4 separate regions of the Homo sapiens genome follow, and all the other regions are linked to region 2. The links come from fine-mapping of genetic effects on gene expression. A gene starts in region 2. Each other region holds a variant in brackets. All regions are shown on one strand. Distances are from middle to middle. Region 1 has its middle 51 kb from the start of ATOSA. Region 2 holds the start of ATOSA (atos homolog A). Region 3 overlaps ATOSA (atos homolog A). Region 4 overlaps LOC107983981 (a long non-coding RNA gene).

Region 1 (2,689 bases), 51 kb before region 2:
TTTTTTTTTTGTAGAGTCAGGGGCCTTGTTTTTTGCCCTGGTCTTGAACTCCTAGCTTCAAGTGATCCTCCTGCCTCAGCCTCCCCAACTGCTGGGATTACAGGCATGAGTCACTGTGCCCAGCTATATACCCTTTTGTACTATTTGAATTTTGTTTTACCGTGTGCACATATGACTTTTTCAATAAGCACAGGTTGTTTTGTTTAATGCATTGATGTATAATGTTACCATTCTTGGGAGGATTACATTTGAACATGACTTCAGCTAAAGGAATCTGTCACTGATAGAATTTCAGGTGGCTGGCCAAGTAGGGTGGCTCACATCTGTAATCCCAGGACTTTGGAAGGACTAGGCGGGAAGATCACTTGAAAGCAGGAGTTCGAGACCACCCTGGGCAATATAGCAAGAGTCTGTCTTTTTTTTTTTTTTTTAAAGGAAAAAAGGAAAAGAATTTCAGGTGGCTGACTCTCTAGCTATTAAGGTAGAGGAGGTAGTTTTTGCTAGAAGAAAGCCCTTCCCAACTCTTCTGAAGTTATGATGACAGCTCAAGACGGAGCCGACCATGTTTCTGGGAGAAATTCTATGGTGGGCTATACTTGTATTTAGGCAGGTCTCCAGCAAGAGAATGTCCTAGTCAAGAAAGTGCGGCTATGGCCTTCACTGTCCCTCGACAAGGTGAAACCTGCTCTCTCCCCCAGCCAGAGGAGAGAGAGGTATTTTTAACCTTGGTGTTGGCTAACGCAGGGTTTCAGGTATTCTCCGGGGTGTACTATGAGACAAGAAAGCCACGATATAACACTTAGACTCATTTGCCCTATCTCAATGTGCTGGTTTTATGCACCTTGGAGAATTGGACCATAAAAGCTGTAATAAGTGAAAACTATTTATTATGCTTCTCCAGTAACCCTTTGGCTATTGTCTTTCTTTTGCTTCTGAAGCAGAAGTGCAGTGCAGCAGTGGGTCGCTAACCTTACCCTCACATCCTTTGGCAAGGGGATAGAAAAATTACCTCCATAGCATTTGCCTTAAGTAGACCAGGAAGAGAAACCAGATTTGGGTCTATTACAAAAGAACTAGAATTACAGGAAGGTTATTTAGGTTCTCTTCAGAA[G/A]GTGGCATGCGTTAGTCATTAGATCTAATGGCACGTGCGTGAGACAAACCAAGTCAACAGGAAATGGATCATGCCATCTGTGAGAAGAGGACAAAAGTTGAAGCATGTGTGCTATGCAGAGTCTTTGCAGATTTGGGGAGGGTGGATTTTTCTCTCACCAAAAGAAGGAGTGGAGAGATGTTGATTTCCAGAATTGATTAACAGAAGAGGATGCAGACACTTCACTTAAATAAATATATCCCCACAAGCTACCAGCTGAGCAACTGCTGGGCTAGAAAGTAACTTGAGTTTAGACCCATTTGGAGATAACTGTCCCTTCCATAAAGAGAAAAGAAGGCTAAATTTAAGCAGGTGGTGAGTTTGGTTAAAAAAGAAAGGCAACAGCTTCGGAAACCACCAGCATTCTGATTACAAGGCTATGTGATCCTTTCAGAAACTGGAGCCTATTCAAGAATCTAAATCAAATTCAGTTTAGGTTTTTGGGGTTCAAACTGGTCTAAGAACAATCCTGACCTCCTAGCAGTCTCTCAGTCAATGAAGAATGGGCTTCTCTTGTATCATGGATATAGAATACACCTAGTTGCAAGGCAGGGACAGGGTAATATACAGTTTATAGCTGTCCAGACTCCAAATGCTTGTTGGAACCCCTCAAGAAGCCCTTTGGGGCTGGAAGGGAGGAGGGCTACTTCCAGATTTCTGAGTCACCTCAAAAAAGGTAGCCTTGGAAGCCAACTCCTCTCTGCTGCGGTCTCTGCATTTTACATCTCCATTCTCCTCTTTCTACCCCTTCAGCTTCCTAACTATTCATCGTCCCTCTTCTTCCTGACTGGGATTCATGTATTAGCTTTTTAAAAATGAAACCCCAAGAATCACTTGAACCCGGGAGGCAGAGGTTGCAGTGAGCTGAGATCACGCCACTGCACTCCAGCCTGGCAACAGAGTGAGACTCCACCTCAAAAAAAAAAAAAAGAGAGAAGAGAGAGAGAAAAGAAAGAAATCCTAATATAATAAAATTATTATGACCATGTGGCTATATGACCATTAAATATTTGTTTTGCACTTCATTCCTTTTTATTTCTTCAGCAAAATGAAATGACCCAATTAATTGCAGAACCCTGAAATCTCACTAATTTTTAAAATCAGAATTCATTTACAGACTCTGATCCCTTATTGTAAGTGACTTTATGTAGTTACGGTCTAAAACCTATTACCAAACAGACTTAACTAAACAATCTTGGTTCTTCTGGCCTGCTTTTTAATTGGAAGAGGAATCTGGAAACCATTACAAAATAGACTGCAAATGAGTCACAACAGGTGACTGTATTTTCCTTTCCGGTTTGAGGCAGTGCAAGATAAATTTAGTTTCTATTATTTTTTTTGTTTCTCAGGAAGATCAGAACTTGCTAAATAAATTAGGATTACTGATCTGATCCCTTCAATTTTCATTTCCTTTCAGGGGTGTTTCTGATCAATAATGAAAGGTCTTTTCATTACTCCAGGGCTCCCTGGAATCAGGCCTGAGATGTGATCTTTTTGTTGTTAAAACATGTTTGGACCACTTAATATCCACAGTCAACT
Region 2 (2,689 bases):
TTATTTGGTCCCAGCTGTTGTGCTAAATTTAGGTTTTTGGCTTATCTGTAACTGTTCTGTCTCCCATTACCAAGTGCTTGTAGAACAAGTAAAACTTCAGTTCATTTTTTAAAAACTACATAATACAGTATTCAATAATATCAAAGTCAAATCCACTGGGATTTAACATTTGTAGCATTTTATAGATTAAAGAACTGTTTCCATTTGTCAGTTTCATCGTCATGATGCCAGAACATTTCAGAGAAAATGAAATGTTACCCTCCTGAATGTTCTCTCCGCTCTGATTAGATACAATCGTGGAGTTAAGGTTAACAATTTCAGTTGTACATGTTATTTTACTGTACATATCTAAGCACTAGAAAATGTTACTTTTTAAATATTTCATGCCTTTTTCATAAGAACTTTACCTGAGGCCAAAAAAATGGAACTGCCAATCTTGCAGTTTATAAAACTCTTCTGATGTGAAAATAATAGACTCATTGTAAAAAAAATTTTAAAACAGAAGGGCACAAATAAAAAAAATCCCCTTAGACTTGTCCTAATACTTTCCTGTGATCCTTTTATGCAAAATTATATCTAAAAAAAAAACTTTTTCTAATGAAACCAAAGAGCCTTGCAAATTTTTACTTGTCTCCATTTGGGCTCATGCCCCATATGTACTTTGTCTATAGACTGAGTAGCTAATAGCTGCAGCGCTTGTTAGGATTGGGTTTTTTTTTAAGTACAGCAGATTCCTGTCATCTGTTTGTGTTTAAATGACGACAACATCACAACATGAAATGCCATCATGTCACATTGCTATAGCACAACAACAAAATTACAGCTCCCCAACAATAACATGCTGTCAAAGTGTCCTCCTGCCCATGAGTCAGTGTTTTAGAAGTTATGAAGATTATTTTTAGCACAGCGAGTGTCTTGGAAGCTTGGGTTCTGAATCCTACTAAAATCCTTAGTGATTTGGGAAAATCTAGGGTGGGGGTGGGCTTCCTGTTCTTAAATTCTCCCACTCCCTGACCCGCATAGCTGCCCACCCCCCGTCCCGGTCACATTAAACCCGGGTTCCATTATGCGCTGCAATCCACTTGGGGCTCGATCACAACTCTGTGCCAGCATCCCGGGAGGAGGAGGAGGAGGAGGAGGAGGGGGGGAAGGAGGGGGAGGGGGGAGGAGGAGGAGGAGGAGGAGGAGGAGGAGGAGGAGGAGACGACGACTATAATTATCCTCCACGTCTGGGGCAGGCCTTTGGATGACATCTCCCCAGTTACCCTGCGCTCTAATAGCGCAGCTCCGATTCCTGGTCTCAGAATCCAGGCGCGCCTCTGCCGGCTGGGAGCGCAACCGAAGTGCCTGGGACGTCTCGGGCTTCCGGGACTCTGCTGGTGTCTCCCAGCCGCCATCTCCAGCGCCCTCGCACCCGCCGGGCACCTGCACCGAAAACCCGGCCCCAAACTAGCGCCCCGGGGCGAGCGGCGGCATTGCCATAGTAACCGGGCGCCAGGGCCGCGGAGGCCGCCGGGGAGGAAGTGACGACCGGGGTGGGTTGGCTGTTGTTGGGACACGTGACCTAGGCAGTGTTTTGACAGGGCAAACAGCAGAGAAAGAACTGGCCGAGCGAGGGGGACGGGGAGCCGGGGCGCCAGAGCTAGAGACAGCGGGCGGGCAAGGAGCTGGCAGAGGCGCTGGGCAAGAGGGCCGGCCGGGGCTACGGGCGGGGGAAGCCCGGGGGTCGCGGGGCTCGGGTGCCAGTCAGGCAGGGCGGAGGGGCTGAGCGCAGGGAGCGGAGCGAGGCGGTGGCTGAGGCGCGGGTGGATGGCCACAGGGGCGCCGGGGAGCCGCTTCGGGCTGGTCGTCTCGGGTCCCCACGGTCACCTGAGGCAGCCGCGGGGGCCGCTGCGCTCCATACTCCGCTCCCGCTGGCCCTGCGCCTCTCGGAGCCTGGGGTCTGAGGTGGGAGTGTGATGTGAGCTGCTGGGCGAGCGGTGGAGAGAAGTGCCAAGAGGAGGCGGGATTGGGACGGGAGAGGAGAGCGAGTTAGTCAGCAGAGGTCGGCCGAGGGAGCGGAGGAGCCGGCCAGCTCGAGAGCGCCATGAAAACAACTCTCCAGCGGGGAGAGGGGCAGACGCGGCGCTCGGTGCGGCGGGGCTGAAGGAAATCCGGGGCCGCGGCGGGACGGAAGGGGTTGTGCAGAGCAGGGGGCGAGCACAGGCTGTAAACACCTCCCCCGGAGCCGGCCGCGGAGGACTGGTTGGGAGTTGGTAGGGTCGCCCCGGGACAGCCCGGAAGAGTTCGTTTGGGGCTGGGGGCTGGGCGGGAGGAGGTGACTCGGGTTTCTGTGTAAACTTGGCCGCGGTTGCCGCAGGAAGGCTAGCCAGAGGGTAATTACACAGGTGAGGCCCGGCGGGGCGGGCGGAGGGCTCGGGAGGCGCAGGGGACTGGAAGAGTTGGCTGCGCCCAGGCACCAGGTGGAAGAATTTCCATACCAGCCCTGCGGAGGTGCCTCTGTTTCCAGAGGCGTTTTTGTACGAAGGGGTTAGTTTGTGTTGCTCAAATCTTTTTCTTCTTCTTGCCTGTACCTCCAGGTTATAAATAGATCCTGTTTTGGTTCAGAGACTGTGTCAGAAGGACACATTGGCCTGGAGAGCACAGAGGCAGGGAAGGGGGTGCTCGATCCGGAGGAGATGGGGGAGGC
Region 3 (2,689 bases), 23 kb after region 2:
ACACATTAATTCTACAGATTGTTTTAGCACTTAGAACTAAAAGTGTTCAAGATTTGATTTTGTTACCTTCTCTGTGTAAGCTAAAGTTGCTGACTTTTCTGAGTTTCCATTTTATTGATTAAAACTGGGATAGTAATAGTATTTTACACCATTTTATAACTTTATTAGAATGACATAATCTGAGTGAAGTGGTTGTGCCAGGCACTTACTAAACACACAGTCAATGAGTATGTTCTCTCCGAAGTTTGTTAGCTTAGGGAATTGGGAGGATGCCACTGATAATAATGGTGACTCTTATTCAGAGGAAAACTAATTCAGTTTTAGACATGCTAGAGTTTGAGGTAGCCAAAAGAGTTTAGTCATATCACTTGGAAGCAAACCAATGTGAAATAGTTTCAAATAAGCAAATTTTAAAAAATGTTAAATGCAAAGCAAACAGTATTAAAGCTTTGGGGACTTAATGATTGAGTCTCCTTACACCTACACAAGATTGGCTAAATACACATACAACTGTGTCACTCTACCAGATTTCTGTTAACATTCTCCAGAATTTAAACTGCAGAATCAGTCATTTGTATGACTGTTTGTCTCTATTAGCAGAGGTAATGACATGTATCAGTGATAGGTAATTGTGGAAAAAAAAACAGCACTTGGAATTAAACCTAGAGTTGGTGATTCTTACAGGGTAACCCAACGGCTACCTTAATTTCTATGATTCAGTTTCTTCATCTACAAAATATTATTTCACAAAGTTGCAGTTGTCAAAGGGACAAGTAAATATGGGATCCATTGTCTTCATGGAAAAACTTTTCATAAAATGTTATTTTATTATAATAAAAAATGTGTGATTGGTTTTCAATTTCAGATTGAATCAAACATAGCATTCTTTGTAATAGCAGGAGATTAACAACATCCCAGAATATATCTTTAAAAGAAGTATGGATAAAGAAAAACCCGTATGCACCTCTGCACACATTTTATGTAATAGTGGTGATACTAATTTACAAAGACAAAGTATATAGGATATTAAAAGTGAATTCTTAATACCTGATCTTGATTCTTATTAAATCTGACTTATGTGTATACAAGATATTATTAGATGAAGTGTTTGTCCAGTAGCTTAGCTTATAAATAACCCCCATTCTAGCTCATTTTAAACAATGTAGTATGAATGATGCCAAAAACAGGCTAGAACATTTTCTTCTTTCCAAGATCTTAGATTTGGTAAACAAGCTACTGCTCCTGGAACTAATCTAGGTCATCATAACCCAAAATCTTTTGAAATATGAGAGTCCCAATTAAGTCTCTTAGGTACTTTTTAGCATTTTAATTTTAAGAATGTGTTTAACTCTTAAAACAGTATATTTTGGTTGCTGTTTGGCCATTTGGTTTATTTGTACCTTGTTATAATGAATGCAAGTCAGTGGGTAATCATTGCAGCAAATATGATTGCTAGGAATCTCATGTAAGTGGAAGTCAATATAATGTATGGCTTAATTTATCCCTGAACTGACCTAACATCACATTTTGTTTTTTAATAAAAACTGGTTTAATGATATGATAAATTTCTGTATTTTCCACAACTGTTAATAATGTTATATTTTAACTATTGCTTAGTCTTCATTACAAATTATTCAGCTGTTAAATGTGTTGTTCA[A/G]TGTGACATTATTTAAAAACTTAAAAAAAAATCAGCTTCACAGAAATCTTTCTTTGATCAAGAGTTGTCTCATTCCCATTGTTATTAATACAGTATACAACTAATGTATGCTAATGTATTGCTGTTATTTGTGTGTGTGTGTGTGTATGTATGCAGACATATGGTCACATCATGTAGACCTGATGTCTGCAAAGGGAAAGAGGAAACTTCAAATTAAGAGCGGAGTACTGACCTAGGTGGTTTGTAGCACTTAGAGAAATGATTATTCCCACTTTTCAAATAAAGAAATAGATTCAGACAGGTTAAATAATTTGGTAACACATCCTATAAGTGGAAAGAGCTTGAATTTGTGGCTTTCCTCCTTTATGTCTTGCTGCTTTAAGGGGTCTTTCCAATCATGAGGTTGAATTTTGTACAAGCGTGTTTACACTACCATATCTGAACATTATCCCCTATCCCTCAAAGACTATTAGGAATAGAAATATCCTATATGTGTAGCACATTGCTACTTTGAAAATAATTTTATCCTGTCCTATTTTATCCTTACAACATACCAACATTGCAGACAAAGAATGAGGAATTTCAAAGAAGTGCTTAAGATCAAAAAGCTGATCAGAGCTAGGATTTGGGCCAGAACCCACATCGATGGTCCCTAGTTCAGTGTCCTTTTCGACCTCCTTTCACTTTCTCTGGATTAGGTGATCTGTGATCATGAAGTAGTGAAGTTTTACAGATTGAACCTTTTATCGTTGTCTTTGTGATCACACTACAGCTACAAAACAGCTATCTGTTTGCAGTCAAATCCTATTTTTCCATGTTACAAGCAGTGTATTAATGGTAATTTTGAGGTATAATGAGGCTGTCGTTGTGGTTATTGAATGACTAATACATGGGAAATGCTTATATGAGATTTCTGTATTTAAACTTTATTTTTGTGTAATGCCATATTTGCCTTACGGCAAATAGTAAGTAACATATGTAAGAAATTGTTAGGGAAAGGATACTAGTGGTTAAGGGCACATATATTAGATT
Region 4 (2,689 bases), 160 kb before region 2:
CCACACTGTGATGTGATGGAAAGAATCAAATGCATTGATGAATATAAAATGGCTAACACAGGATCTCTAACACATAGCAAATACACAACAAATGTTAGCTATTACCATTATTTTTGTTGTCTATTTTTACACTATAATGTTGAGTTTTTTTAATTATACTTTAAGTTCTAGGGTACATGTGCACAACTTGCGGGTTTGTTACATATGTATACATGTGCCATGTGGGTGTGCTGCACCCATTAACTCGTCATTCACATTAGGTATATCTCCTAATGCTTTCCCTCCCCCCTCCCCCCACCCCATGACAGGCCCCGGTGAGTGATGTTCCCCTTCCTGTGTCCAGGTGTTCTCATTGTTCAATTCCCACCTGTGAGTGAGAACATGCGGTGCTTGGTTTTTTTGTCCTTGTGATAGTTTGCTGAGAATGATGGTTTCCAGTTTCACCCATGTCACTGCAAAGGACATGAACTCATCATTTTTTATGGCTGCATAGTATTCCATGGTATATATGTGCCACATTTTCTTAATCCAGTCTATCATTGATGGACATTTGGGTTGGTTCCAAGTCTTTGCTATTGTGAATAGTGCTGCAATAAACATACGTGTGCATGTGTCTTCATAGCAGCATGATTTCTAATCCTTTGGGTATATACCCAGTAATGCGATGGCTGGGTCAATTAGTATTTCTAGTTTTAGATCCTTGAGGAATTACCACAGTGTCTTCCACAATGGTTGAACTAGTTTACAGTCCCACCAACAGTGTAAAAGTGTTCCTATTTCTCCACATCCTCTCCAGCACCTGTTGTTTCCTGACTTTTTAATGATTGCCATTCTAACTGGTGTAAGATGGTATCTCATTGTGGTTTTGATTTGCATTTCTCTGATGGCCAGTGATGATGAGCATTTTTTCATGTGTCTGTTGGCTGCACAAATGTCTTCTTTTGAGAAGTGTCTGTTCATATCCTTTGCCCACTTTTTGATGGGGTTGTTTGTTTTTTTCTTGTAAATTTGTTTGAGTCCTTTGTAGATTCTGGATATTAGCCTTTGTCAGATGAGTAGATTGCAAAAATTTTCTCCCATTCTGTAGGCTGCCTGTTCATGCTGATGGTAGTTTCTTTTGCTGTGCAGAAGCTCTTTCATTTAATTATATCCCATTTGTCAATTTTGGCTTTTGTTGCCATTGCTTTTGGTGTTTTAGACATAAAGTCCTTGCCTATGCCTATGTCCTGAATGGTATTGCCTAGGTTTTCTTCTAGGGTTTTTATAGTTTTAGGTCTAACATTTAAGTTTTTAATCCATCTTGCCAGGCGCAGTGCCTCACACCTGTAATCCCAGCACTTTGGGAGGCTGAGACGGGCGGATCACGAGGTCAGGAGATCGAGACCATCCTGGCTAACACGGTGAAACCCCGTCTCTACTAAAAATCCAAAAAAAAGAAATTAGCCGGGTGTAGTGGCGGGCGCCTATAGTCCCAGCTACTAGGGAGGCTGAGGCAGGAGAATGGCGTGAACCCAGGAGGTGGAGCTTGCAGCAAGCCGAGATC[G/A]CGCCACTGCACTCCAGCCTGGGCGACTGAGCGAGACTCCGTCTCAAAATAAAATAAAATAAAATAAAAAGTTTTTAATCCATCTTGAATTAATTTTTGTATAAGGTGTAAGGAAGGGATCCAGTTTCAGTTTTCTACATATGGCTCACCAGTTTTCCCAGCACCATTTGTTAAATAGGGAATCCTTTCCCCATTTCTTGTTTTTGTCAGGTTTTTCAAAGACCAGATGGTTGTAGAGCTGTGGTATTATTTCTGAGGGTTGTGTTCTGTTCCATTGGTCTATATCTCTGTTTTGGTACCAGTACCATGCTGTTTTGGTTACTGTAGCCTTGTAGTATAGTTTGAAGTCAGGTAGCATGATGCCTCCAGCTTTGTTCTTTTGGCTTAGGATTGACTTGGCAAAGTGGGCTCTTTTTTGGTTCCATATGAACTTTAAAGTAGTTTTTTCCAATTGTGTGAAGAAAGTCATTGGTAGCTTGATGGGGATGGCAATGTTGAGATTTTAACTAAAATTCAGAACTAATCATGTATATTCAGCTCTGATGTTGCAAACTGTTTAGAAAGTTTGCAACATCATTGGAAGCTTTTGACCAGAATAACATTCTAAACTCCTCGGTTTACACTTACAAAACTCCAGAACATGAGTTTGACCTCTCCCTCCTATCTTACCCACCCCTTCACCTGTCTGTCACTCTAGACTTCCTGCTGCTCTCCAGATTCACTGGCTCCATCACACATATGGGTACCTCTTCCCACCATTACACACTTGGAGAACTCCTAGATATCCTTCAAGACCCACACGAAATTTCACATCCTCTGTGAACCATTTCCCCTAACCTTAACTCAAAGTCAGTTACTCTCAGTTATACAACTTAAAGCACTTTGCATTTAAATTTACAATAGCACAGATTACTTTGAATTTTAACTATTTATCTGTGGTTTATTTGCCCTTTTTCACATAGTAGGTAAAATATGTTCGAATCAAATAAAATGGTATTGGAAGGAAGGAAGGGAGTGAGAAAGAAAGGGAGATAAAAGAAGGGAGAGTCAGAGGGAAAAGAGAGAGAGAGAAAAAAAAGGAAAACAGGGAAAGAGGAAGGAAAAGGGAGAAAATCCAACAAGTCAGACCTATGAAAAGTTTAAAAA

The links. PIP is the estimated chance that this variant, and not a neighbour inherited with it, causes the effect.
Region 1: its variant is fine-mapped to the expression of ATOSA in whole blood (TOPMed, PIP above 0.99).
Region 3: its variant is fine-mapped to the expression of ATOSA in blood mononuclear cells (TOPMed, PIP above 0.99).
Region 4: its variant is fine-mapped to the expression of ATOSA in anterior cingulate cortex (GTEx, PIP 0.99).

Annotation. Positions count from the first base shown.
Region 1 is chr15:52,728,814-52,731,502 of GRCh38, reverse strand. No RefSeq gene overlaps it. Among named protein-coding and RNA genes, the nearest start is that of ATOSA, 51 kb to the right of the region's middle. The variant G/A (reference allele first, on the strand shown) is at 1,112.
Region 2 is chr15:52,678,270-52,680,958 of GRCh38, reverse strand. ATOSA (atos homolog A) reads left to right here and starts at 1,571. Exons shown (of 13, transcript NM_001385016.1): 1 at 1,571-2,131. LOC105370821 (a long non-coding RNA gene) reads right to left here and starts at 1,354. Exons shown (of 4, transcript XR_932255.4): 1 at 1,266-1,354. RefSeq lists a silencer at 1,636-1,955 and an enhancer at 2,536-2,675.
Region 3 is chr15:52,655,129-52,657,817 of GRCh38, reverse strand. All of the region lies in intron 2 of ATOSA (atos homolog A), which reads left to right. Among named protein-coding and RNA genes, the nearest start is that of ATOSA, 23 kb to the left of the region's middle. The variant A/G (reference allele first, on the strand shown) is at 1,658.
Region 4 is chr15:52,841,362-52,844,050 of GRCh38, reverse strand. The region is part of intron 1 of LOC107983981 (a long non-coding RNA gene); the gene reads right to left. Among named protein-coding and RNA genes, the nearest start is that of ONECUT1, 52 kb to the right of the region's middle. The variant G/A (reference allele first, on the strand shown) is at 1,544.